Linked DNA regions of Homo sapiens. The protein of the gene in region 2 purifies or fractionates together with the protein of the main gene of each other region. This does not show direct contact. Each region holds a gene or a part of one and is shown on either strand. Other genes may lie near its edges.

What was found.
Region 1: the proteins of LDLRAD4 (region 2) and NEDD4L purify together in Homo sapiens (affinity purification with mass spectrometry; 4 studies listed by BioGRID and IntAct, with this or other methods). This does not show direct contact.
Region 3: the proteins of LDLRAD4 (region 2) and WWP2 purify together in Homo sapiens (affinity purification with mass spectrometry; 5 studies listed by BioGRID and IntAct, with this or other methods). This does not show direct contact.
Region 4: the proteins of LDLRAD4 (region 2) and HECW2 purify together in Homo sapiens (affinity purification with mass spectrometry; 4 studies listed by BioGRID and IntAct, with this or other methods). This does not show direct contact.

The regions. Positions count from the first base shown.
Region 1 is NC_000018.10:58,397,226-58,402,068, forward strand, and holds the end of NEDD4L (E3 ubiquitin-protein ligase NEDD4-like), read left to right. Parts: 3' UTR 1-4,314; downstream 4,315-4,843. UniProt on the Homo sapiens protein: E3 ubiquitin-protein ligase that mediates the polyubiquitination of lysine and cysteine residues on target proteins and is thereby implicated in the regulation of various signaling pathways including autophagy, innate immunity or DNA repair.
Region 2 is NC_000018.10:13,214,781-13,221,773, forward strand, and holds the start of LDLRAD4 (low-density lipoprotein receptor class A domain-containing protein 4 isoform alpha 1), read left to right. Parts: upstream 1-3,979; 5' UTR 3,980-4,208; intron 4,209-6,993. UniProt on the Homo sapiens protein: Functions as a negative regulator of TGF-beta signaling and thereby probably plays a role in cell proliferation, differentiation, apoptosis, motility, extracellular matrix production and immunosuppression.
Region 3 is NC_000016.10:69,765,303-69,772,331, forward strand, and holds part of WWP2 (NEDD4-like E3 ubiquitin-protein ligase WWP2), read left to right. Parts: intron 1-7,029. UniProt on the Homo sapiens protein: E3 ubiquitin-protein ligase which accepts ubiquitin from an E2 ubiquitin-conjugating enzyme in the form of a thioester and then directly transfers the ubiquitin to targeted substrates.
Region 4 is NC_000002.12:196,590,538-196,598,348, reverse strand, and holds the start of HECW2 (E3 ubiquitin-protein ligase HECW2), read left to right. Parts: upstream 1-4,794; 5' UTR 4,795-4,841; intron 4,842-5,365; exon of another isoform or gene 5,366-5,885; intron 5,886-7,811. UniProt on the Homo sapiens protein: E3 ubiquitin-protein ligase that mediates ubiquitination of TP73. Acts to stabilize TP73 and enhance activation of transcription by TP73. Involved in the regulation of mitotic metaphase/anaphase transition.

The DNA.
Region 1 (4,843 bases), about 45 Mb from region 2:
AACCAGATCTGTTTAGTCTCCTGTTTGTATGCGTTTGCTAATGGTAGCTAAATAACCAGTTTTTGTTGTAAATGCACCAATTCTGAAGGCACTTTATGTACTACATGGAGGTCATATCTGGTTTTGTTTTTATTTTTTTATCATGAACATTAAATGTGATGATGATTTCTTTTCCCTGCACACATCTTTCCGGTGCAATATCTATCAATTGTGAATCTGGCTGCTGGTGTATAAAAACCTGGATGTAAAGCTGAGCCTACAGACCTGTCCTCACCAACTGTTTTGTGATTTCTACTCAACTACAAAGATTTATTTAATGTACTCTTAATCTAACTGAGTTTTGTTACCAATGACCTGTTGCATGCTTCAATACCGTGTACTGCCTGAGTTGTGCCTCTTGTGTGCTAGATTAAAAGTGAGACAGAGACTTGACTTGATCCTCTGAGCTCAAGCTATTGAGCTGGTAGTGGCAGAGGACTGAGGGTACCTGCACAGTTTGATTCTTTTCCACGTGTAAGTCTCCATTGCAGAATTGTCGTGCTTTGAGAAAACACCTGAGGCAGTGTGGGAGTTGAACGACCCTGCTGTCCTTTTTAACCTGTGTTGTCCTAGACCCTGTCGGGGCAGTCAGGGGACACTAGAGATTTGATCTCATGCGAGTCATCAATAGGACAAAAAAGTTGTGGTTTGGGGAGGTCTGTTTGTTACATAAAAAGGACCTTTCGGTGTAAGAAATTGCCGTTTTTACCCTGCCCTGGCTGGCATGTGAGAAGCCATGGAAGGTTGTGGTTGTAAATGAGTTGTCTAAAGGGGTGCAGAGGCCTGAGGTTTCTAAAAGAAGGTAGATTTCTACAGAGCTGAGTGTTGGTTCCTTTTTCTTATTGGTTGAAAATTACCTGGTAGTGATCAGAAAACTTAGATGCTATGTAACTAAAAAAAAAAAAAAAAAAAAAAAAAAAAAAAAAAAAATTCCCGCTCATGAGTTTTGACTATTGGTGAGATGTTTTCCGCTACAGTTAACATGACAAATGTCTCAGTGGCAAAAATCCCCTTTTTGTAAGCCCCCATAGTCTAGAGGCAGTTTTCTTTTTAAGAATCATGCCAGAGCCTGAGTCGAGCAGTATGCTTTCTTGGTTTTTGAGAGTAATTGTGTAATTGTAGAGGGAGAAATCCAATTCTAACCTAAGAACTGGGATTCTTCTGTCATCTTGTAAACCGTATATTGAAAAAAACAGAATGTCACTAAATGCATATTAAGTCAAGTATTGGAAAGTATAAAAGAAAAATCATTCTGACAATTTCTAAGCCAGAAGCAAACAAGAATTACTGAAATCTACCCCATGAATACTTGGAAGGCAGTAATTGTGAGTGACACCTCAGTTCATCAACCCCTTAATAATATCAGCTTAATTTTAATGACAACTAAATATGCTGAAGTGAGGATTTAGTATTTTTTAAAAAAGCAAAACAAGGTTCAGTAGTCCTCAGCAATTCTCCAAGTTTCTCTCTTTGCCTAAAATGGTCATAGATCTTGATTTCTCTGAATCGTGATGACCACACCCAGTCATCTTCACAGCATAATTGCAGGTGGCAGTAAAGAGAGTGTGCTGGGTAAGGAGCAGTTGCTGGGTCATTCCTTGGGCCCCGACCTGCCCGGGGAGTAGCCCTGGGGGAGAGAGGGCAGTGTTGCCTATCCCAGAGGTCCCAGCAGTCACACTGCTCTGCAGGCCGGGCTCTCTTTATAGCCAGAGAAATCACCTTAATGCAGTCTCTTTAGTTGTCTGCTGAAGCTGTAGTTATTATGGGCCACTTACATGAGGCTGAGAAGTACGTGCCGGAGCTCACACACTGCCTGTTGCGGTTCTCTTAACATCAGTTATCACAGCTGCCTGTGGGTCCCGGGTATTTCCATTCCTGCCCCTTGTTGGCCCGAGGAAGGATGTGGAAAGAGCACCTGGTGGGATGAAGGTCCAACAGCCTGTGCCTCTCCACTGCTGGCCCTGGAGCCGGCAGCAGTGAGGCATTCATTGTCTGTGTTGCGGTGTATTCCCAGCTTCAGTGCTCTTTTCCTTTTTGCCTGAAATGTTTATGCTTCTCTGCAGCCAGTCCTCTAACAAATCTCAAGAACAAAGGTAAGACACTTGGTTTTTGTTTCCAGGACCCTTCAGAAGGTGACATCAGATATTCCCTAAATTCAGACAATGAGGGATACAGAGCGACTTGGCATGTATTATTTCTCCCATGTAAGGACAAAGGGACAGATTATTATTGTTATTTCTGAGACAGAGTCTTGCTCTGTAGCTCAGGCTGGAGTGCAGTGGCTCAATCTCAGCTCACCACAACCTCTGCCTCCTGGCTTCAAGCGATTCTTCTGCCTCAGCCTCCCCGAATAGTTGGGATTACAGGCACCCACCACCACGCCTGGCTAATTTTTGTATTTTTAGTAGAGATGGTTTCACCATGCTGGCCAGGCTGGTCTTGAACTCCTGACCTCAGGTGATCCTCCCGCCTCAGCCTTCCAAAGTGCTGGGATTACAAGCATGAGCCACCGCACCCGGCCTCACAGTGACAGATTCTGAGAAACAGCATGCAAAACATTTGAACCATTTTCTACATCTCCCATTGTTGCATAGAGAGTGTGCACCGCTGCTATCTTGCCAGATCCACACTGGTCCTCCCGAAAGCCAGGTTCATACACAGCAACTTTTTAATTATTCTAACAGTTACCCATTAACAGTCGACTCCTGTATTTCTGAGAGTCTTGTACTCACCTCTGAAATTTAAAAACGTATAAAGAGAGCCTGGGTTAATCAGTTCTGCAGCCCCTACGTGACACTGTGCTAGTTCTCCTTCTTCTGTCTCCTCCTTACCCTGGCCCTGCACCCCTGTACTTAAGAGGGAGAGGTGGGAGGTGCTGTCTGGTATCATTTGCTGCCTCGCCAGTAGAGGGTGCCGCTGTGCAGGGTAACTGCCCGCCTGCTCCCTTCCTGACCTCCCCTGACCCCGAAGATCACTACCTCTGTCATTCAGGCATTGGGGTACATCCTGATAAGTCGTGTCAGAACTGCCAATTTCAGGACTGAGATGTGTTTTTAAAAAACAAATCCTTATAAACTCCACTTTGTACTTTAGATTTTAAAACTGGGGAAAAATGTGATATTCTTTGGACCACTTTTTTAATTTATATAAGCCTTAATGAACAGTGTCTATACATTTGCATACACACACCCCCACCCCAGAGTGTTCTCAGTATGTCAGAGAAAGTGCCACAGCATTAGGACGGGAGCTTGGAGAACGTTTTCTAGAAAAGGGTTAGCTTCCTGTTGGCATGAAATTTTCCAAGCAAACCTCATTAAACATCTGTTGTTTGTTAAAGATGTTCCACTGAAAGCAACGCATGTTTCAAAGGCACGTCTTTCCGTTCGTTGGTTTTCTGTGTGTAAGGAGTAGCATTGCTGTTGGCGCCTAACCTCGCGTGCACTGCATTCTCAACCCCGTACCAGTGCATCATCAGAAGCCTTCCTCGTGACCATAACTCTGTGTCTGCAGATATGTGTTCCCGTGTAAGCCAGTTTTCCCCTTTTACTCAGACTGATTTCACCTAGATTGTCACGGTTTCCTTCATGTTAACTTTGCGTGACTTTGTTCTTCCTTTACTACTCTGTATGTAATATATATACATATATACGTACATATGCTGTCCAAATATATTTGTATATATTTGTATAGCATTTTTACACCTTTATTGAGTAATCTGGTTTCGAAAGGAGGTGAGAGTTTAGTCCCTTCTGCAGTTTTCTCCAAGCTGTGTCCTGTGAATTTCAACCCTTGGAGCCTAAGAAAACCCTAGGAAGATGATGTTAATTTGCTGTCATTTCCTAATTCAGGATCTATCATCAAATGAAACATGAAAAAAACAGTGACTTTTAAGGTGAAAAGAGTTTCAAGCATTCCAAATAAATTATCAATGTTTCATAACTTTTTATTATAAACCCACCTCCTAATAGGAAGCCAAGTACTATTTGATACAGTGGTAAAAACCAAACTACCTTGAATTTTTTTAAGGCAACTTATGAATAATGCTCATTTTCACAGTCAGAATAGCTTTAAAATATGGTTGAATTTGATACACACAGGAAGTTTTCTTGAAGAACAATCCTTTCGCTTTTCTTTTTTCTTGAGAGATCTAAAGAGAAACTGTAGATTGTTTTCCTGACAGCAAAAGACTAATGTGACAAAATGAAGTCATTGTAAAGAAGCGATGCAACTTGTCAAATATTTAATAAAGAATTATGGAAGCTGGAACATTTTCTACATCAAGTGTTATGGGTTGTTTGATTTAAAGCTTCTTTGTGAATGCACCATCTTAATTGTTGTCAGAGGGGTTTAAATGCCTGCAGATTTATAGTATGTTCATTTCCTTCATCTCCCTAAAAGCGCCGCACTTTTAAAAACATTAAAGTCTGGCAGGGCACAGTGGCTCACGCCTGTAATCCCAGCACTTTGGGAGGCTGAGGTGGGCAGATCACTGAGGTTAGGCATTCAAGACCAGCCTGACCAACATGGTGAAACCCCATCTCTACTAAAAATACAAAAAATATATATATATATTAGCCAGACGTGGTGGCGCATGCCTGTAATGCCAGCTACTCAGGAGGCTGAGGCAGGAGAATCGCTTGAACCCGGGAGGCAGAGGTTTCAGTGAGCTGAGATTGTGCCATTGCATGCACTCCAGCCTGGGTGACAGAGCGAGATTCCGTTTCAAAAAAAAAAAAAAAGTCTGCCCAAAACACATGGCTTAAGCCTACTAAAAGGATGCACATTTATTCTTATCCGTCTGCTG
Region 2 (6,993 bases):
CTTGGCCCTCAAATTCCCTTTTTCTCAACATTCGTTCATGTTTCCCTTTTCTATTTATGTCTCCTTAGATGACTGACTAGCAAACTTCTATGGACTAAGTATGGCCAGGGTATAATTGACATGAGACAGGCTGCAAGGATTGACAGTGAAAAATAATCTTTTTCACCTCTCACTCTTTGAAACCAATTTCAGTTGATTTCCACCCAATTTTAGTAATATTTATCTCAATATTGTTTACTCATCTATCCCAATACTAAGGTACCATTCATTCCAAAAAACCCTTTGAGCCCCTTGTGTCAGGCACTATTCTGTGTACTGGGGTCCAAGTTCTCCACCAACGGAGCAAAACAAAGTCTCCGCTCTGCTGCGCTTCAGTCTGGGCCCTTGGAATGAGCGAATGGTCAGGATGAAGCCGATGTAGAATCATGTTGCATTTTACAGAGAGCAAACTTACATCTAAGTACCTCGAACTCTTAGCATTGCTATAGGGAGAGTGTGTGTGTCTGGAAGGGTGTGGGAGGGAATAGCTGAAGTGGAAAACAAATACAGGGAGGACTGAGTAGGAAACACAGGGACAGGCCGGGCACGGTGGCTCACGCCTGTAATCCCAGCACTTTGGGAGGCCAAGGCGGGCGGATCACGAGGTCAGGAGATCGAGACCATCCTGGCTGACACGGTGAAACCCCGTCTCTATTAAAAATACAAAAAATTAGTTGGGCGTGGTGGCGGGCACCTGTAGTCCCAGCTACTCGGGAGGCTGAGGCAGGAGAATGGCATGAACCTGGGAGGCGGGGTTTGCAGTGAGCCGAGATCACGCCATTGCACTCCAGCTTGGGCGACAGAGCGAGACTCCGCCTCAAAAAACAAAACAAAACAAAACAAAAAAAAGAAAACACAGGGACAGGTTCCTCCCATATTTTCTAGAGATAGAAATACAGAGCCGCAGCAGTTTCTAGTTATAAATAAGATAAGAAAGGGCAACACGAGATTGAGATTCATCACAAATGGTAGAAATTGAGATTATGATTTTAAAATTCAGCCCTCAATTTAAGGCGGTTAAGTTAGACACAGAGAAATTATGTGCAAGTGAAATAGAAGGCATTGCTTTGTGGTTTTGGAAAAACTTTTCTTCTTCATTGTCCATGGGGCGTTTAGATGGAAAAAGTCATTTCTTTTTCTACCTAAAGAGGGCAAGAGCACAGTTTCTCCAACCCCAAAGCATGTGAGTTTTGCATTTGTGGACATTAAATATAAACTAAGTATATGCTTGTCAGATTAGGATAACCTGTGTGAAGCACTTATCAGCTTATTGCTCATTTAAAAAAGTTTACCCAGGCAGCCAGGTTCAAAGTTCCCCTGCTACAAGCTTCTCAGTTAGACCAGGACCTGGGCATTCCCAGCTGGAGCGGGCTCATTGCCGGGCACAGGGCAGATGCTGGCTGGTTTGCGGGCTGAGCTGAAGAACTGTCAGCGCTGCTGTAGGTAGGTGGCAGTATGGCATGCTGGTTCAGCTCCCAGCTTTCTATGCAGCTAGTTAGGGATGTAAAACCATCTCTTTGTGGTCTGAGGACAAATTACTAAATCCTTCTAGCCTCAACTTCGTCATGTGTAAAATGGAGAAGTAATAGCTCCCAGTTATTGTGAGGACTCAATCAGACAATCCATGTAAAGCGCTTAGCACAGAAGCGCTCCATGAATGGTAGTTATTATTACATCACATATGAGCACTGATCAAAGGCTAGCGGCAATTACCACCATAGCTGAGAGCTGAGGGCTTAAGGGAAACTGAATTCAGCCAACATTTCACTAACTAAAAAGTCACTGACAAATTAGACAAAACGTAGGTTTCAAAAGATTCATTTCTCTGACATTACGGAAATATGAACTGGACAACTTTTTGGGGGGTGTGTGGGGACAGTTGAAAATGTTCACTCCTTTAATCAGCTGCATCTATCTTAAACCCAGCCTGAAACCCCTGCTTAGTGTAGTATTTTGATATGTCTGCAGGGGGGTTAATTTTGGCAGAGGCGAACTAATTTTGGTGACTGCAATAAAATTGGGTTAAAATGCTCATATGCTCTGGCAGTAACCAATCCCCCATCAAACATGGTAGGGGTGGCTGGAGGCAATGCGTGTACTTCTGAACAAAGTCTGCACTCAGGTGGAGGTCAAGTCCGAAATGGTCTTCACAGGAGGTGTAGGTCCTTCAAGGAGAAAGGGTCACAGCGCGAAGAATCCATCTGACCTTCTAGGCAGGAGCCATTTCCTTTAAAGAGGGCAGGATACTAAGGGGGCGACCAGGTGGGGTCCGGGGGCGCCTCAAGCTCCTCAAGGCTCGCCGAGCACTGCTCCGTCCTACTAAGTGTCCTGCCGCCCGACTGCACGTCTCTAGGCGGCTGCCCGAGGTCCCGCGGCCCGTGGTGCACACGCAGCCCGCGAGGTACTCTGTGCTGGAACGCGCCCCCAGCCTCCCGAAACCGCCCCCGGCCTGCGGGCAGCGAGCCGGCTCCTCCGGGCGCCCCTGCAGCGTACTCTGCGCTCGGCTTGGAGTTCCCCGTGCGGCCGGCGGTGGGCGCGCGCCACGCGGGCCCGAGCCCTGGGCGGGAGTGCGGCCCCGGGTCCCGCGGCCTCGGCGCCCGCGCGCCTCCCCCACTGCCCACCCCCGGCCTCCGGGCCCGCCCCCCGCAGGGGTCGGCGCAGCCTGTGAGCCGGGGACCCCTGAGCCCCCGCCACGGCGGCCCCGGTACCCGCGGCCTGGCCGCGCGCCGGGTCCCCACCGCGGAGTGGGAAGGAGGAGGAGAGACTGGAGGAGTTGGAGACAGACACAGCCGCGGCGCGCAGTCACGGCTGGAGACAGACGGCGGCGACGGCGGCGGGAGGCGGGACACTCCCCCCTCCGGCGACTGGAGGCGGGACACCTCCCCGGCGGCCGCAGCGCCGCGTCCCCTCTCTCCCCGCGCTGAGGCTGCGGACCGGGCCCGGCGGGATTAGCAGGCGAGTGCGTTGGCCCTGCCCGCTCCGCGCGCCGCCGCGGCCGGCCGGGGATCCCCTGCAAGCCACTGAGCCGCTGCCGCCGCTGCAGCCAGACAGGCTGCGGGTGCCTGGGAAAGTGGAAGCAGGGCGGGGAGCGCGGGGGAGGCCCGGGGGTGAGGTCCTCAGCTCTTAAAGAACCCCGGCGCGCCGCGCTCCCCGCCGGCCCGCCGCGCGCCCCCTGCCGCGCCCCGCACAGCGCCCCTCCCCCTGGCCAGCAGGGCCGGTGGCCGCGGAGCCGCACTGCGGGCAGTCCCCGCCTCCGCTCCGGGGGGGCGGCCCAGGTGAGTGCGGACCCGAGGTGGCCGCAGTGGTCGGGGCTTCTGGCCCAAGTTCACCGCTGCGCTCCGGAGGGAGGGGTGGCGGGGGACTCGGGAACCGGACGCTTTGGGAACTGGACGTCCGCGAGCCTGCGCCGTCGGCTGGGGCCGGAGGGAGAAGCTGGGCGCCGAGCGCGCGAGGTCTGTGAGGCTTGGTCCGGGTGGGCTTGCCGGTGGGCACGGCGGGGATCCGGGGCTGGCCCGCGGGCGGGGTTACGCCGGTGGAGGGACTTCGCCGACCCCCACCCCGTTTTCTGTTTCCTGGTGCCCTGGGGCGCAGGGTGTCCCGCGGTTGCAAGACTGAATTCTGCACCGCCCGGAGGCCAGGATGGGCGCGCGGATGGCAGCCCCAACTGTCTCCGCGCCCCTAGGCCTCGGCGAGCCGTGGCGGGCAGGGACTGGAGGTCAGCGGGAAGCGGGAAGATCCTGCAGGACCTGACCGGGGAGTTTGCGGGAAGGAGGGGGCGGGCCAAGCCCCGCAGCCCCTCAGTCCCGCATCCTGCACCGCGCGCTCCCCGGCCCCGGCCCCTCGGGCCCGCTTCACCCGGCGTCCCCCCGGGTCCCCCCGCGCGCGTTGACGTCGGTCGCGGGACCGCCCGGAGCTCCCGGCATTGGCTGGGAAGTCGATTGTCTGGGGCTGCTGCTGTTGCACTTAGGCTGGGTCTCCGAGCCCCGGAGGAAGCAGGCGTGTGTTGAATTTCTCTCTGCCCCTCACCTTGGAATAAACAGGAAGCGACAAGCACCCAGCCCGGCCCGGCACTTGCCTTTGTGAAGGGGTCTGCCCTGCACAGCCTTTAGGAAGCTTCCTCGGGACCCCTTCCCGGTGCGCCGCCCCGGGTGGGCCTGGGGGCGCGCCCTGTGAGTACACCGGTGGAAGACAGTGGGTTCGGTTTAGGTTAAATCGCTATCGTGGCGGAGAGGGCATTTGCTTGTTTAAACTTTTTTTTTTTTTTTTTTAATTGGAAAAGGAGAAGGTTTCCCGATGAGGCAGAGGTTTTCAGGACGACAGGGACGCATGGTGGGTGGGCGGCACTGGGGGAAGGCGCATCCGAGAGTACAGCGTTCTTGGGTCACCTACCTGGAGGGACACCTCGTCGCCAGTCAGGGCAGCTAGAAGCTCTTTAAAGCAAGCAGGACTCCTTAGCTCTGCCCAGGCACAGGAATGGTTGCTGTGTGCCCATAGCCGCATGAACTAGCATGATTTTTGTTTTTCCCCCAAAATTTTTTAATTAGCTAGAATTAGATAATTTTGATTTGCTTCTTTTCTTTTCCTCTGTGTCTTGGTCTATTCCCTTCTCTTTTTCTCTTTTCTAATTATTTTGGCATCTTCTCATCCCCGGACCAGCGCTGCTTTCTAAATGTTAATTACCATTGCAATACATATTTATTGAGGGCCTACTATGTGTTAGGCATTGTAGGATGTGAGGTAAGAGTAGCTGCACAGAATGTGGGTTCTGAGCGCTAGTATTAGTAAGTTATTTGCAGTAGAGGTGGATAGAGATGGTGAGCAGCATTGACTCTCAAAAATAGGGTCCTATGGCTGGTAAGGAGGTTGGTGCCTTCTCGAAGGGCTAGTGCTGGGAAGCTTCCTTTTAAAAACGGCCCTTTCTGCCGGTTTGGCTAGCCAAGAATGGCATCCTCCTCTCTGTATCTTCCCTGGAGCTTCAGGACTGAGTATTGAATGACAGAGAAGGTTCTGCAAAGTCTGCACAGGGAGACTGCCATTGCATCAAGTCATGTCTGCATTCTGTATATGGTATTGTCTTTTCTAGTCTTTAACTCGAGTGTGTTGTCATCTGTAACTCTCCCTTTGTACTCTGCACAATTCTTCTGGAATATAGTCTTTGTGTTCAGTCAAGGATCAGAGTGTCAAATCTGAGTCATTACATAGACAAATGAGGATGTCTGAGTATTACCCATGTATATTTATTGAATTATATTTGGTTTCCCATCAACCCTTGAAATGTTATTTGATGGACCTTTCTAAGCAGTGCTTTTTAAAACAGGGGGCTAACTTCCTTATGATCTTTGAAAGCTTAATTCTTTTTAAGAGCTTCATTTTGCTATTGACATTGAACACAGTGTTAGGAATTAGGGCTGGGAATGTAAATGCCAGTAAGGGATTTGCTGTAATGGAATTGTAGCTACCTTCCTCCCTTGTTTTAAATGACCTCTCTAATTTCTTAACATTCTGCTGTTACCCTTGGAAGGGCTTGCCATTGTTGGCCATGGTCCTGGTTCGTGTAGGTTTGTATTTACATTGGAGAAGACTCTTCCCGGCAGGTTTTTAGGGCTGTCTCTTGAATCCTCTCATGGGCTTGGTTTGCAAGACCACAATCCTGCAGTGGAACGCAGCCAGTGCCAGCTGCTTATTAAGGGATTTTGTGCCAATTTGTTGGCACATTATTTGAGACTCCTGCACCCCACCCTACTCCCACTGGAGTATATACATACATAGACAAATATTTATTTTCCCCCAACTGCTGACAGTGTTCTAAGAATAGTTTTCTTGCCTGGCACGCGGAGAGCAAGGGCCCGTCTGCAGAGGTGTTTACAGTTTGGGACTGTGCTGTAGTCTTGGTTGACTTAGCAGCCTGGCAGACCAGCCTCATAGCTCCTGGGACGCTCTCTGTTTTTGCTCTGGGCTGCTGCAGGGGTAACCTCCCTGACTGATAGGGAAGCACAGTCAGAGGAGAGTGACTTTTGCTCCTTGTGCATGGTTTCTGGCAGGCAGTCCAGCAGAGATCCCTGAGCTCCTGACGTCTCTGCATGTAGCCAGCATAAAGTCTCCTTGTGGTGGGTGGGAGGTGACTGCTCTACGTCATCACGTAAAACCAAAGCCACCTCAGGGCCCTGGGCAGGAATTCTTGAAATTGTAGACTGCTCTGATCTTTCTGGTAGTCCTTGCCATGTTTCTTCTCATCTTTCTTTGGAATCTGGGCTTATCCAGTCTCTATGATGTGTCCTTCTTCCTGTGTAAGAGTTAGTAGAGAAGGAAAAATGTTATCCCTCAAGAAGTGATAAAACATTGTAAAAGAAGAGCGCACCATATTAACCTGGAAAAATTTTTGGAAATAGTTAACAGAATGTATAGCGGCACATGGATATTAAATATGAATAGCGGCAAAATTGCTATGTAGTCCAAAATTATTCTTTTCTTTCTTCCTTCCTCTCTGTCTCCTTCCCTCTCTCCCTCTGTTCCTTCCTTTTTTTAGGTCTCAGAAAAAAATCTCCTGGAAGCCATTATTTTCTGATGTCAAAGAGACTTTCTGCCTATATGAACTGTGTTAGTTTAGAATTACATCTTGACCTATATTACGGGTGTACATGGAAGATGAGTCTTAAGTTTCAAAATAGGAATGCAAAGGTTCTGTCTACTATTTGAAAATTTAGGCCACAAGACCTGCCACTTTTTAGGGACATTTTTTGGGGGGCATTGTTTGCTTCATTGTTAGGCAGAGAAAGGACTGAAGCTAGTACCTGTACTATTAATTATGCTGAAAATATTGGGTTTGAATTTTCAGTTAATGTCATTTTTTTCCATCACAGGAGGAATTGAAAATGATGTCTGTATTGTCACATATCCATGTGATTTAAGAATGGATTGCTTTTCTTTTGAGTTCTCACTAAAAATGGTACTTTG
Region 3 (7,029 bases), on a different chromosome or scaffold from region 2:
ATTTCCTAGAAAAATAAAAAATTATAAATGTGGCTTGCACTTGTGGCTCCCATCTTATTTCTATTGGACAAACCTGTTCTGAATGCCAGGAATATAGCAGTACAAGAAAGGTAAGGATCCCCACCCTTGTGGATCTTCAATTTTATTAGAGAAGGGCACATTGATAACTAAGTATAATATGTATTATGTTGTAATAAAGCAGGGAAGAGGGATGTAGGTTGCAGTTTAAATAGGATCCTGGCCAGGTGCGGTGGCTCACGCCTGTAATTCCAGAACTTTTGGAGGCTGAGACGGGCGGATCACTTGAGGTCAGGATTTCAAGACCAGCCTGACCAACATGGTGAAACCCCATCTCTACCCAAAATACAAAAATTAGCTGGGCTTGTTGGCACATGTGTCTAATTCCAGCTACTCGGGAGGCTGAGGCACGAGAATTGCTTGAGCTCGGGAGATGGAGGTTGCAGTGAACCAAGATCGCGCCACTGCACTCCAGCCTAGGTGATGAAGTGAGACTCCGTCTTGCTTTTGGAGAGATGGGGAGTTGGGGGCGGGGGTTCTCACTTTTGCCCAGGCTGGTCTTGAACACTTGGCCTCAAGACATCCTCCTGCCTCAGCCTCCGAAAGTGCTGAGATTACAGGCATGAACCATTGCACCTGGCTCAGTCTCTTAACTCTAAATACTATCCACATGCTAACAGCTTCCATATGTGTGTCTAGCCTAGGCCTGTCTCGAGACTTCTAGATCTAATTGCCCACAATATCTTCACGTGGATTCCTATCAGGCATTTTATAATCAACATCAACAAAATTGAGCCCTACACCTGCCCCTCAGACAGCCTTCCCCATCTCAGTTAATGACAACTCCATTCCTCCAGTTGTTCAAGCCAAAGACCTTGGAGTCACCCTTGACTCGTCTCTTCCTCTCACACCCCACATCCAACTCAGCTCGTCCACAAAGCCTACTGGCTGTACTTCAGAGTACACCCTGGATGCATCTTTCCCCTGGATGATGGCAACAGCCTCCTAACTTGTCTCCCTCTTCCACCCTGGCTGGCCTTCACTTTCTCCACACAGGACCCAGGGCAAGTCTGTTAAAAGGCAGGGTGGATCCTGTCCACTCCACTGCCCAACTCAAACCCTCCAATTGTCCCAGCTTAACTGGAGTGAAAACCAATACCCTACAATGGCCTGCAAGCCTTCCATGACCTGATCTCTCCTCCCACACCCACCACCACCCTGACCTCCTCTCTCCACTCCTGCTTACTCAATCCCCTCCAGCCACACTGGCCTCCTGACTGGTCCCAAAACCTGCCAGTGGTACTCCTTATTTGGGGCTTTTGAACTCTGCCTGGACCCTTAAGCCCCTATTCAGCCACATGGCCCCTTCCTTCCCTCACTTCCTCAGATCTTTACTCAACCATCACCTTCAGAGAGAGGCTTTTCTAGGGATCCTATATTTTACTTTATTATTTTTGGAGTGTTGTTCTGTTGCCCAGGCTGGAGTGCAATGGTACGATCTTGGCTCACTGCAACCTTCACCTCCCAGGTTCAAGTGACTCTCCTGCCTCAGCCTCCTGAGTAGCTGGGATTACAGGCATCTGCCACTATGTCCAACTAATTTTTGTATTTTTAGTAGAGATGGGGTTTCACCAGGTTGGTCAGGCTAGCCTCAAAATCCTGACCTCAAGTGATCTGCCTGCCTCGGCCTCCCAAAGTACTGGAATAGGGGTTTTGTTTTTTTTTTTTTTAATCTTTTTGAAAACCACAAGCTAATGGGTTTCTTTTTTCTTAATGAGGCTACTCTTCCAACTGTGCATCTTTATAGCACCCCTGAAATCAATTTGAGTGCCAATTTCTGGAATTAGTCTGGCTTCCTGGGTTGGCATCCAGTTTAGGCCTCCAGGATGGATGGATAATGGGCTTTTTATGTTTGAAATATGTATTGGTTTTTTCAAACATGTATTGAATGCATGTTGTTTGTCAGGCATCCCACCATTTTATACATTTAACCTTGTTGAGGTGAAGTGACCCTCACGAGGTCAGATAGCTAAGAAATGAAAGAGATGGCCATTTGAATCTTGGTCTTCAGAGTCCACATCTGGTCCTTCTACCACTTATCATTAGTGAGATGGGTGGAGTGGCTATATAAACATAAACTCCCTTTGGAATCAAATCAGTGAGTTGCTTTTGAGCGACTTTGAGTCCCTTAGGACTATTATGTGTCACAGGCAGAAAGGGAATTTACCAGGTAAAGAAAGGCAGATTTATTAAAGTGAAAACACGTTGCAAGAAAGCAATGGGCAGCACAGCAGAGAAGGGGCTGTCTGCAAAGAGGCAGGAGATGGAGGGAAGTTTTACAGGGTTGTGCTGGAGGGGGCTATGTGGGGATTGATGCATCTGAGGGCTGTTTGTGATTAATCATTTCTCAGAACGACTGTCCATGGCTTTCCCCTACCTGAGGCCCCTTCCTCGTTGTTGCTTACTTATCTTATTAGGACTCCACATTATGGACTCTGAAATTTCTTTTCTTTCTTCTTTATTTGTTTTGCTTTTGAGACAAGGTCTCATTCTGTCACCCAGGCTGAAGTACAGTGGCATGATCATGGCTCACTGCAGCCTCAACCTTTTGAGCTCAAGTGATCCTCCCATCTTAGCCTTCCAAGTAGCTGAGACTATAGGCATGTGCCACCATGCCTAGCTAATTTTTAACTTTTTTGTAGAGATGGGGTCCCACTATGTTACTCAGACTGGTCTTGAACTCCGGGCTCAAGTGATCCTCCTGCCTCAGCCTCCCAAAGTGTTTGGGGTTACAGGTGTGAGCCACCACAACTGGCTAGGGCTCTGGAATTTCTGAAAGATGGGAACAAAAGGGAAGATGTTTCCCCTGGATGATGGGACAGGTTAGATTCTAACCAAAATCTTTTTAGAAGGTTGCAGTTCCCTGTTTTTCACCCCACCGCAGTTTATAGCAAATATTCAGTGATTTAAATCATTACTACTAATAATAACTATTAGGAAAATACCAGCCAGGCATGGTGGCTCACACCTATAATCCCAGCACTTTAGGAGGCCGAGGTGGGTAGATCACCTGAAGTCAGGAGTTTAAGACCAGCCTGGCCAACATGGAGAAACCCCGTCTCTACTAAAAATACAAAAAATTAGCTAGGCGTGGTGGCAGACACCTGTAATCCCAGCTACTTGGGAGCCTGAGGCAGGAGAATCGCTTGAACCCAGGAGGCGGAGGTTGCAGTGAGCCGAGATTGCATCACTGCCCTCTAGCCTGGGCAACAAGAGCGAAACTCCTTCTCAAAAATAATTAAATAAATAAAAAATAACAAGTACCAAGACATGGCAGTCCTGACCTAGGGCCCGTCCTCTTCCTCAAGTCACCCATGCCTTTTGCTTCTTGTTTTGTCTTCAGATCTGCTTTCCAGTCAGCCTCTTTTATTCTTAGCCTGTAATTCCACGGGGCTTCCAATAGTGTACCTCCCTGCTCCCTCCCGTTTTCTCTTTTTCCGTGCTTAGTCTTTGTAAGGATGTCATTTGGCAAAGTTGATTCTGTTTGATTGTTTTTCAATATGGGCCTTTGGAGAATGGAAGGTAGTAACTCAATGCTGGACAGAGGAAGGAGGCCAAGAAAGAAGCATTAGTGTTGGAGTAGCATGAGCCTGTGAAGAACAGGAGAATCTTTTGGACAGAGCTTTTCCTTGCATATCTTTCAAGAAATGAGTGCAGGCTGGGCGCAGTGGCTCACGCCTGTAATCCCAGCACTTTGGGAGGCCAAGGCGGGTGGATCATGAGGTCAGGAGATCGAGACCATCCTGGCTAACGTGATGAAACCCATCTCTACTAAAAATACAAAAAACTAGTCAGGCGTGGTGACAGGCACCTGTAATCCCCGCTACTCGGAAGGCTGAGGCAAGAGAATTGCTTGAACCCGGGAGGTGGAGGTTTGCAGTGAGCCGAGATTGCACCACTCACTCCAGCCTGGGTGACAGAGCAAGACTCCATCTCAAAAAAAAAAAAAAAAAAAAAATAGAAGTGGGTGCAAGGTTTATCTCTAGTTAGAAATAAGCTCTGCCTGTTTCTACAGCTGGTTAATTAGAAATAAAATCTTTGTGAACCCATGGATTATATTGAAAAAAATTTTTTAAAACAAGAAATAAAATATTGATACTGGTGTGTAATTTCTGCTTTTCCCTGGCTCCTTCTACACAGGTCTTTTCATCTCAAGATCGGTGTTCACTGGTTTCTTGACTCAGAGCTGGGTCAAGAATTTTAGGAATTGAGGTGCTTGTAATGCCAGAGCCAAGAATTTCAGTATCGAGAAGTGGTTTTGTTTGTAGTTGATATTTGAAGAGCTCTTACTGTGTGTCCTCTGCTTTACCTGAATTCATGTAGTCAGTACAGTAATCTTATAAAGTAAGTACTATTATTGGGTTCATTTCACAGATGAGAAAACTGAGATTTAGAGAGGGTAGGTATGATTTTGTGAAATATATATTTAGTCTTCCTCCCATTTCCTGGCCTATAACTCCTAAAATCATTGAAATCTCCCAAGTGATCAGTGTCTTTTTTTTTTTTTTTTTTGAGATAGAATCTCGCTGTGTCGCCCAGGCTAGAGTGCAATGGCATAATCTCGGCTCGCTGCAGCCTCTAAGCGATTCCCGTGCCTCAGCCTCCCAAGTAGCTGGGGCTACAGGCACATGCCGTCATACCCAGCTAATTTTTGTATTTTTAGTAGAGATGGGATTTCGCCGTGTTGGCCAGGCTGGTCTCGAACTCCTGAGCTCAGGTGATCTGTCTGCCTTGGCCTCCCAAAGTGCTGAGATTACAGGTGTGAGCCACCACACCTGGTCAGTGTCTTTTTGTGTGCTAATAATTGACCTTTGGTTGGGGACTCCTGGATAGTCTCAGGATTTGGGGGCCAGTGGCCAGGGAAACCAGCCTTGTAGTTAGAGGGTTGGCACTTTTAGTCCCACACCCAGCCTCTGGGACAGGGAGAGGGACTGAAAGTTGACTTGATCTGCAGTGGCAGTGACTTAATTGATCATGCCTGCGTAATGAAGCTTCCATAAAAACCCTGAAGGACTGGGTTTGGGGAGCTTCTGGATGGCTGCACACGTGGAGGTTCTTGGAGGATGGCACCCTCAGAGAGGGCTTGGAGGCTCTGTGCCCCTTCTCACATGCCTCGCCCTACGTCTCTTCATTTGTATCCTTCATAATATCCTTTATAATAAATCAGTAAATGCAAATAAAGTGTTTCCTTGAGTCCTGTGAGTTGCTCTAGCAAATTTATCAATCCTAAGAACCTCGATTTATAGCCGGTTGGTCAGAAGCACGGGTAAAACAACCTGGAGCTTGCAATTGATGTCGCAAGTCAGGGGCAGTCTTGGGGAACTAAACCTGTGGGATCTGATGCTATTTCCAGGTGGATAGTGTAGGAACTGAATTAGAGGACACCCAGCTGGTGTCTGCCAGCTGCAGAATTGATTGCTTACTTGGTATGTGGGGCTCCCACACATCTGGTGTCAGAAGTATTCTGTGGGGCTGGGCGTGGTGGCTCACACCTGTAATCCCAGCACTTTGGGAGGCAGAGGTAGGAGGATCGCTTGAGCCCAGGAGTTTGAGATCAACCCGGGCAGCATAGTGAAATCCTGTCTCTATTAAAAAAAAAAAAAAAAGGTAGTATTCTGTGTTGTGAGAGTATAGCAGGAAGAAACTGAGTTTGCTTTTTCCTCTCCATCCTCTCAGTAAGTAACTTGCTCTGGATCACTCAAAGGCAAATGAGTGGTTCAGCTTATTAGCCTCCAGAAGATTGACAGGTCTGAAAGGTTGTTGCTGAGGTAGGGTGATAAAAGTGATCAGGTGCTTCAGGTATTGCAGGAGCTGCCACTAGCTTAATCTGATGTGTAGTTGTTTTCTCCTGTCAAAAGTTCTGTAATAATTATTATTTTTCTTTTTGAGATGAAATCTTGCTGTGTCTCCCAGGCTGGAGTGCAGTGTGCTATCTTGGCTCACTGCAACCTCCGCCTCCCGGGTTCAAGCTATTCTCTTGCCTCAGCTCCTGAGTAGCTGGGATTACAGGTGCCTGCCACCATGCCCGGCTAATTTTTGTATTTTTAGTAGAGACGGGGTTTCCCCATGTTGGCCAGGCTGGTCTCGAAATCCTGACCTCAAGTGATCCACCCGCCTGGGCCTCCTAAAGTGCTGGGATTATAGGCATGAGGCACAGAGCCTGAAGGACTGTAGCTTTGTAGTAAGTTTTAAAATTGGAAAGTGTTAGTCATCCAACTTTGTTCTTTTTCAAGATTGTTTTGGCGATTCTGGGTTCCTTGCATTTCCTTACTTTAGGATCAGCTTGTCAATTGCTGAAAAACAATTCTCTTTTTCTCTCTGTTTGTTTTTATATCTGGCTTTTTGGCCAAGGACTTCTGCAATGTTTGTTGACATTTAGGTGTGAAGTACACATGTATGCTAGGACCCAAGTGCGGGAAGGTGAGTTGGGTGGGGGAAATTGACCTTTTCAGTTTATAATGTAGACTTTCACTGTCTCGCTGGGTCAATATGGTGCCTTATCCCTATTGTCAACTATGCCTGAAGTCTTGAGTTTGGTTTCACCTGTTGAGAAACTAAAAGTCTTTTTAGTCTTTTTTTTTTTTTTTTTTTTTTTTTTGAGACAGAGTCTTGCTCTTGTTGCCCAGGCTGGAGTGTAATGGTGTGATCTTAGCTCACCATGACCTGTCTCCCAGGTTCAAGCTATTCTCCTGCCTCGGCCTATCCCAAGTAGCTGGGATTACAGGCACGCACCACTACACCTGGCTAATTTTGTATTTTTAGTAAAGACAGGGTTTCATCATGTTGGTCAGGCTGGTCTCGAACTCCCGAACTTGGGTGATCCGCCTGCCTCGGCCTCCCAAAGTGCTGGACTAAAAGTCTGCTTGGGATTAGGAAGGGGCAACTGCTTGGTTGAACTGGGTGGGGAGGGGACTCTGGGACTCTAATCATTCCCAAGATAGGCTTTTGCCA
Region 4 (7,811 bases), on a different chromosome or scaffold from region 2:
ACCCTCCCCTTCCCTTCCCCCCTTCCCCTTCCCCTCCCCTTCCCCTCCTCCCTTCCCCTTCCCTTCCCCCCTTCCCCTCTTACCCTCCCCTTCCCTTCCCCCCTTCCCCTTCCCCTCCCCTTCCCCTCCTCCCTTCCCCTTCCCTTCCCCCCTTCCCCTCTCTTTCCCCTCTCGCCCCCACCTTTCCCTCCCCCTCCCCTCCCTTTCCTTCCCTTTCCTTCCTTCCCTTCCCTTCTTTTCTTTTTTCTTTTTTCGAGACAGAGTTTCGCTCTTGTTGCCCAGGCTGGAGTGCAATGGCATGATCTCGGCTCACGGCAACCTCTGCCTCCCAGGTTCAAGCAATTCTCCTGCCTCAGCCTCCTGAGTACCTGGGATTACAGGTGCCTGCCACCACACCCAGCTGATTTTTCGTATTTTTAGTAGAGACAGTTTTCACCATGTTGGCCAGACTGGTCTTGAACTCCCAATTCAAGACACTTTTTAAGAAAAAAAAAATACACATTATACATACAAAATGAGGTACTGAAAAGAATATATATCCAGAATTAAAAAAATCACAACAATTCGCACATTCAAAAAATCTTATAAGGCTGGGCATGGTGACTCACGCCTGTAATCCCAGCACTTTGGGAAGCCGAGGCCGGTGAATCACTTGAGGTCAGGAGTTTGAGACCAGCCTGGCCAACATGGTTGAACCCCGTCTCTACTAAAAATACAGAAATTAGCCAGATGTGATGGTGGGTTCCTGTAATCCCACCTACTCTGGAGGCTAAGGCAGGAGAACTGCTTGAACCTGGGAGGCGGAGGTTGCAGTGAGCCAAGACCGCGCCACTGCACCCCAGCCTAGGCGACAGTGACACTCCATCTCAAAAAAAAAAAACCAAACAGCAACAACAACAACAACAACAAAACAACCTTACAAGTATTAGATCACCAAATACAGAAAAATACCACGATCTTTAAATTAATTAACTGCCTGACATACCTCTGTGATATGTCTTTCCTACGTATTTTGGCTTTATACTCTTTGATTTATTCTTCATATGAAAATGATTTTGTGACATTATGTTCTATAGAGTTAATAGATATTCCAGTGTTTTCACTAGTAAAGTTGACTAAAATTTGTTTTTATTACTGATAGTTTAGAGGAGTTTCTTTTCAGTCCACAATGCATTATTGGGAAAGTAACATATTTTTAGGATTGTTTCAAAATTTAGGAAAATCACTATTAAATTTATTTCACATATAAACAATAAGATGTGGGAGGGTTTTCCATATTCTAGTTCTGAATCCGTACATACATTTCAAACATCATTTACCCCGTTACCCATATACTTCTGTGCTGGGTGCTGAAGTATGCAGTTATTAATACTTGGTGGTATAATTTCCATCCCTTTACCTTTGTGTCACAACACTGAAGGGCCCAAGTGACTGTCTTTGCACAGTCAAAATAGACATCACTGTCACAACTTTAATGCCCACAGACCACATAAATGTATTCCACTTAACCAATTCAACTTCCCTTTAGCCAGATCCCCACAAATGTCCACAATCACTCCACTTCTTTCGGAACAAGGGGAATTAGGACAACACGGAAGTTAGAATGAAAAGGGACAGCAGTCTTGTCTTAATTCAAGCTGCAATAACAAAGCATCCTAGACTGGGTGGCTTATGAACAACAGAAATTTATTTTTCACAGTTCTGGACGCCAGAAGAATGAGATCAGGGTGCCAGTGTGGTTGTGATGTGGGTGGGAAGGCCCTCTTCCAGTTGCAGACTGCCATCTTTTCTTTGTATCCTCAAGAGGCAGAAAGAGGGTGAGAGAGCTCTCTTGGGTTTCTTTTATAAGGGCATTTATTCCATCACCTCCCAAAGGCCCCACCTCCTAATACCATCACATTAGGGGTTAGGATTTCAACACATGAATTTGGGGGAGCACAAACATTCAGTCCACTGCAAATCGCTTGAGATTAAAATATCTTACTTTGGAAGCTTTTATAAAAATATAAGACCACATGAACATGTCTCTCAGGCTCCTTCTGTGTTGTTGGAAGAGGGCTGGAGTATAAGTTTCTTGGAATCTGCCTTTGGGTTTAGCTTTGGCCATATGCTTTAGAAGGAGCAGTCACAAACCTTGGCACATCTGTAGAAAGGAAGTAACCTAGGATGATGAAGGGTCAGGACACATTGCCATGTGTCCTGCATGACTTATGGGTCATGCAAAGATCTTGGAAAAGAGACAATTCAAGTGGTTCACAAGTTTGTCTTCAGTGCTTGGAGTACTCTCAGGTGGAAGAAATATTTCAACTCAATATAAGGGATCACTTCCTAATGTCAGGCCAGTTTCAATGCAGAATTGACCAGCTTGTAAAGTACTGAGTTCTCTTTAAGGGAATGGCTCCAGGAGAGGATAAGTGAGACCCGGTCAGAGATCTTGTGAAGGAGAGTGGTGGTGATGACGAACGGGGAGTGCAGTGTGAAAGAACCTACCTAATCTTTACACACCTTTGCAAGTTTGAGATTTTTAGGATGACTTTGCTATTAATGTTCTTTGATGCCTTAGTCTCGGTTTTAATGGTCGATATGTAGAAAGTTTTAAAGGTAGTAGGGGCTGCTTTTAAAGTGAGAGAAAAATGTTTTTTAAGACCTAGGGCAGCAATAGTGATTCACTTTGCCTCTATTCATTTTTAGGGTTCTTCTTTCTCCCTCCTTTCCTCCCTTCCTCCCTTCCTCCTCTTTTCTTTTCTTTCTTTTTCTGTTTTTCTTTTCTTTCTTTCTTTTTCCTCCTCCTCCTCCTTCTTCTTCCTCTTCCTCTTCTTTTTTGACAAGGTGACAGGGTCTTGCTCTGTCTTCAAGCTGGAGTGCAGTGGTGCAATCACAGCTCATTGCAGTCTTGAAATCCTGGGCTCAACTGATCTTCCTGCCTCAGCCTCCAGAGTAACTGCGATTACAGGTTCAGGCCACCATGCCTGGCTATTTTTATTTTTATTTCTTTCTTTATTTAATGTATTATACTTTAAGTTCTGGGATATATGTGCAGAACGTGGAGGTTTGTTACATAGGTATACACGTGCCATGGTGGTTTGCTGCACCCATCAACCCATCATCTACATTAGGTATTTCTCCTAATGAGATCCCTCCCCTAGCCCCACAACCCCCGATAGGCCCCTCCTCCCTGATGTGATGTTCTCCTCCCTGTGTTCATGTGTTCTCATTGTTCAGCTCCCACTTATGAGTGAGAAAACGCAGTGTTTGGTTTTCTGTTCCTGTGTTAGTGGGGTCTCACTATGTTGCCCAGATTGGTCTTAAACTCCTGGCTTCAAGAGATCCTCCTGCCTCAGGCATGATTACAGGTGTGAGCCACTGCACCTGGCCCATTTTGACTAGAATGTAACATAGTGGTTAATCAACACAAAGAAGCTAAGGATTGCAGGTGTGGGGTTGCTGGATTTGAGTAAGTTGTGAAGGAGAACATCATGTGGGAACAAACCTCTAGGATCCCTGTTCTTCCAGCAAGAACTGGAATTGGGCCTTTTGTGGGGTGGGGCTCTTTGATTCTGTGGAGGATCCTAACAGTGATGCCTGGGCTGATAGATCCAGGGGACTAAGAAGTCAGGGCTCCTCTGAGACATGTGACAAAACACAGCTGACACTGACTTGAAATAAAAGAGAGAGGATTTATTGGCTTCAAGGGTAGAGTTCACTGCAGACACATCTACCTCCTGAGGTTCCTGAGAGGGTGGGACATCACCCTCTCACCAGCAGCTTTTCTTCCCTCAAAGTTGGCTTCATTGGCATGCACTGTTGGTCCTTGTTACCGTAGGCTTATATCCTTCCAATTTAGTTATCCTAGTTTAAAGAGCTTATTTTTCTGCAGTAATACATCCAAAGCCCTAGGCCGAGTTCCTGGATCAACATGCCCAACCCAGAACCGATCACTGCGGTCCGGAAGATGACTGGCTAGTTCTGGGGGTTGAGGGTGGGAGGTGTCAGTACCCTGGAGCCACAAAGACTCATTGTGGGTGAGGGGGAAGGGCAGTTCCCATAGGAATAATGAACTGCTGTTACCAGAAAAGGCGGAGAAATGGATAATATTGAGCACACACTCAAAAGTCCCAAAGGAATGGCTATCCATTATTTGGGGACTTACTCCATATGGATATAGTTAAATTGTAAAATTGAATAAATCTTCCCTAAATCTGGACAGATGCAAGGGTGGGTGGGGAGGGACACAATATATTTACACTTTAGCATTTTTACTTTTTCTCCTACGTGGGACTGGTTGATGAAGATGCTATAGAAGTAAACAGAAAGCCGAAAGTATTAATACAGTAATTTTAAATTTTAGTGCCCTCTTTAGGCAAAGTATCTGGGAACGCTTTCAATAATCCATTTTTTCATCGTGACCACACCCTGTGTGTGCGACATGAGTATTACCGTCTTGCCCTTGCAGTTGGGGAAACCGAGGCATGACACTCCCCTATTCAGCTTTCTGGTGGGGTTGAGGAACAGTGTTGTCTGCACGACCTCAGAGGGTCTCCTCCACCCTCCGCGACACCTCTAGGAATCCTCCTGTCCTTCGACTTCGCAGAAGGAGAGCAACTCAGGCTCCGCCGCAGCCTCGGGACTCGTCCTCCGCCCAGCCGCACCCGCCCCGTTCTTCCGCACCTTCCTCAGGGAGGTCCCGCTGGCCAAGGTCTGGCTGTCCCTCCTGTCCTCTGCCCCCGCCTCCCTTCCACCGGTCCCCGACGTGCCGCCAGCTCCCAGCCCAGCGTCCCGCAGGGCGGTGCGGGCAGATGCCGCCGAAGCGTCTAGCGGGAAGGGCGCCGGCGCGGCTGGAGGTGAGGAGGCCGGACTCTTCGCTCTCCGCGGACCGGGGCACCGCGGCTGGAGCGGACGCCCGGCACCCGGGCGGGAGGAAGGTGGCGGCAGGGAGCGGCGAGAGGGTGGCGACGCAGGCGGGTCGGCGCCTGGAGAGCGAGCGGCGGGGAGCCGGGCGCTGCGGGGCCGCTCGGGGCCGCGCCGCGCTCGGCCACAAACCTCCCGGAGGCGCAGGACCCCCGGCGCCCTCCCGAGCGCGGGCGGGAGCCATGGCTTCGCGCGTCCCCGCTGCCGCTGCTGACTCGACACAATCGGCGGGTCGCGCGGGGGCCGTGGCGTAACCCGGGGGTGGGTGGCGGCGCGGAGCCGCCTCGAGAGCTCTGGGTGTCGCTGGGAGCTAGGAAGATGCCAGCACAAAGGCGAGCCGAGACCCAGCCCGCTGCGGAGGGCGGCGGGAAGAGCCGCTGAGGGGCGCGCCGAGCGCGCTCTGCCCCTGCGCCGCGTCTCTCCGGGCGCTTCTCGCGGTCTCGGGGTCGGGGACTGCAGCGCAGAGACTCTCGGCTCCGTGGCAGCGGCCGCAGCAGCCGTGAGCTGCATGCAACGCGCGGCGGCGCCCCCGGCCGCCTGCTTTCTCCTCGGCGCGCACGGACCGGCCGCAGGGCGCCGGGGCCGCGGGTCCGGGCGACTTTGGGGGCGCCCTCCCGCCCCGCGGCCGGGTCCCCACCCGCAGCTTGTGGCGACGGGCGCAAAGCCCAGGTGAGCGCGCGGCCCTCGCCGCAGGTAGCGGACGGCGGGAGGTGGCTTTGTTTTTCCTCCCTTGCGCCCCGGCGCGGTCATTCATTTGCCATTTCGGTTTCCGCTGCCCAGGATGTGTTGGATGGTTTGGTTCTCCAGGGAAACTGGGACTTTGGGGTCTATTTGAGCATCAGTTGAGGGAGAGGACGCTTCATTTCCTTTTTGGTTGGGAATGTGCCGTGAACATCCTCTGCTGGAGCTTGGGGCCTGGAGCAAACTGGGGCTGCAGATTTAGACGTAGACGTTTCCGAGGACGCGAGACTGCAGAGGTCTGACTCTCTCATGCCTTGTCTTCACTATTAGCAGCGCTCGGGTGCTTTTCGTCGTTTATTATTATTAATTTAGAGAACATCTTTACAGGCACATTTCTTTTAGAGTTAGAAGTCTTTGGAGTCAGTACAGAGAGCTCACAATTAGAGTTACAAGGGTTCAATCGATATTAAACTTCAGGAAGGAAAACATTTGTGATCATTACAGATAGAGGTGGACAGCATGCAAACTTCGGGGGCCTTTAGCTTTTGGGTTATGATTTCTGCTTTCACTGTCCTAGACTCACGCAAACTGTTTTCGTATATATATACCTTTGTGAAAGTGTGAAACTTGTCTTTTCTGGAGTAGTGTTCTATAGTTTGTCATTTAGAAGAAGAATATTTTAGTGTAATTAGTAGAGCTCTCCATGTGTTTGTCTTATAAATATGATTTTCTTTTTACTATTTCTCCTATTCCCTCGAGGGTTCATTTCTTCTGTTGCTTTGAGAGAGCTTTTTTTCTTTCTCTTCCCAACAGATGGCTGTATGTTCCAAGAGGTTATCTTTAAAATGACACACACATTATCTACAAAGAAAGAAAGATCAGTTATTGACTTTATCTTTGGAGTTATTAAAATAAAAGGCCTAATCTGGATGGGGATATTATTAATGGCGTGAAAATCTGGAGTTTGCTAATCTGTTTGGTCATCAGAAGATTCCTGCGGGGATTGTTTATATAGCGTGGGAGACAGATGGCATCCCTAGCAGACTAGAGAAGCCAGGCATAAAGGGTCATTGTATTCTTCAGAAATTATCCACTTCACTATTAGAGGTGGGGTAGGGTGGGGTGGAGGGTGGCAAAGACATTTTGATCTCTTAAAGGAGACACTGTAACGTTACTATCCAGCAGTCTAACCAGCTTTAATTTTTCTTTTTGTTGAACATTCAAAAAGTCCCAATTGAGCTATTTGTTTTGATTATTTCATTGGCACATTTTGGCTTCGATGTGGTTGTGTGAAGCAGTTTATTAACAAAAATGTCTTTGAACTTAAAAATAATCGTGCTGCTTCTGGGGGAAAATCAGTTGCACCTTTCTTAGCTCTTGTATATAAATGGCCCCTTGGACTCAAACCGTCTTCTGGCTGGAAAGACTTTAGTCTTCATTAGTTTGAATCCAGTTTCCTTCACCATCTCCGTGACAGGTGATTTCCAAATCCCCACCATTTGGCCGCAGACTCTGAGGTTTGGGCACCATGATGATTTCCCAGTCTAAGACATTCGCTTCACCATCGCCTCTATCACGGTATTGGGCAACATTTGGCAATGAATCTTTATGAATGGCTGTGGTGTCGGTAAAGAAATCAAAATCATTCTGAACATTTGAGATAAACCAGCTGGAGCTTTTCTGCGCCTACCACTGTTGTGGATTATCTATGTGTTGTGTAGATTGCAACCAGATCACAAAGCTAGTTTTCCCTCTTTATGAATGTGAAGGAAAATATTCCAGTAAATTAACATTTGCCAGCCACAGGACTAAATTTAATGAAGATTATGAGCAATGTTTGACCCCTCTGAACAGGAGACAAAAAATAAAAGTAAGCACTGGTTCTGTTTCACTTGGGCAATGTGATCTTGGGAGAAAAACCTATATTTTCTTACTCTTTTAAAAGGCTTTTGCAACACTGATTTCAGCCAAAGGCAAAGAAACCAAGGTTGTTACCTGTAGTTGAGGACAGATGCTTTGGCGTTTTCTCCTAGATGAATGTGTTTTGCAGGAGAGGTGGCTTTTGGGATCTTCCCAGTTTTAATATGTGCCTACACATCAATGAAATGATCTTGCATTCAAAATGCTTGTTAAGTCTATATGGTTGGTATCTGTGTAACCTCTAACCAGGTGGCTTTCTCTGTTGTGAAGTGTTCCTTTAAGAGAAACCAGAGGCTTCTCGC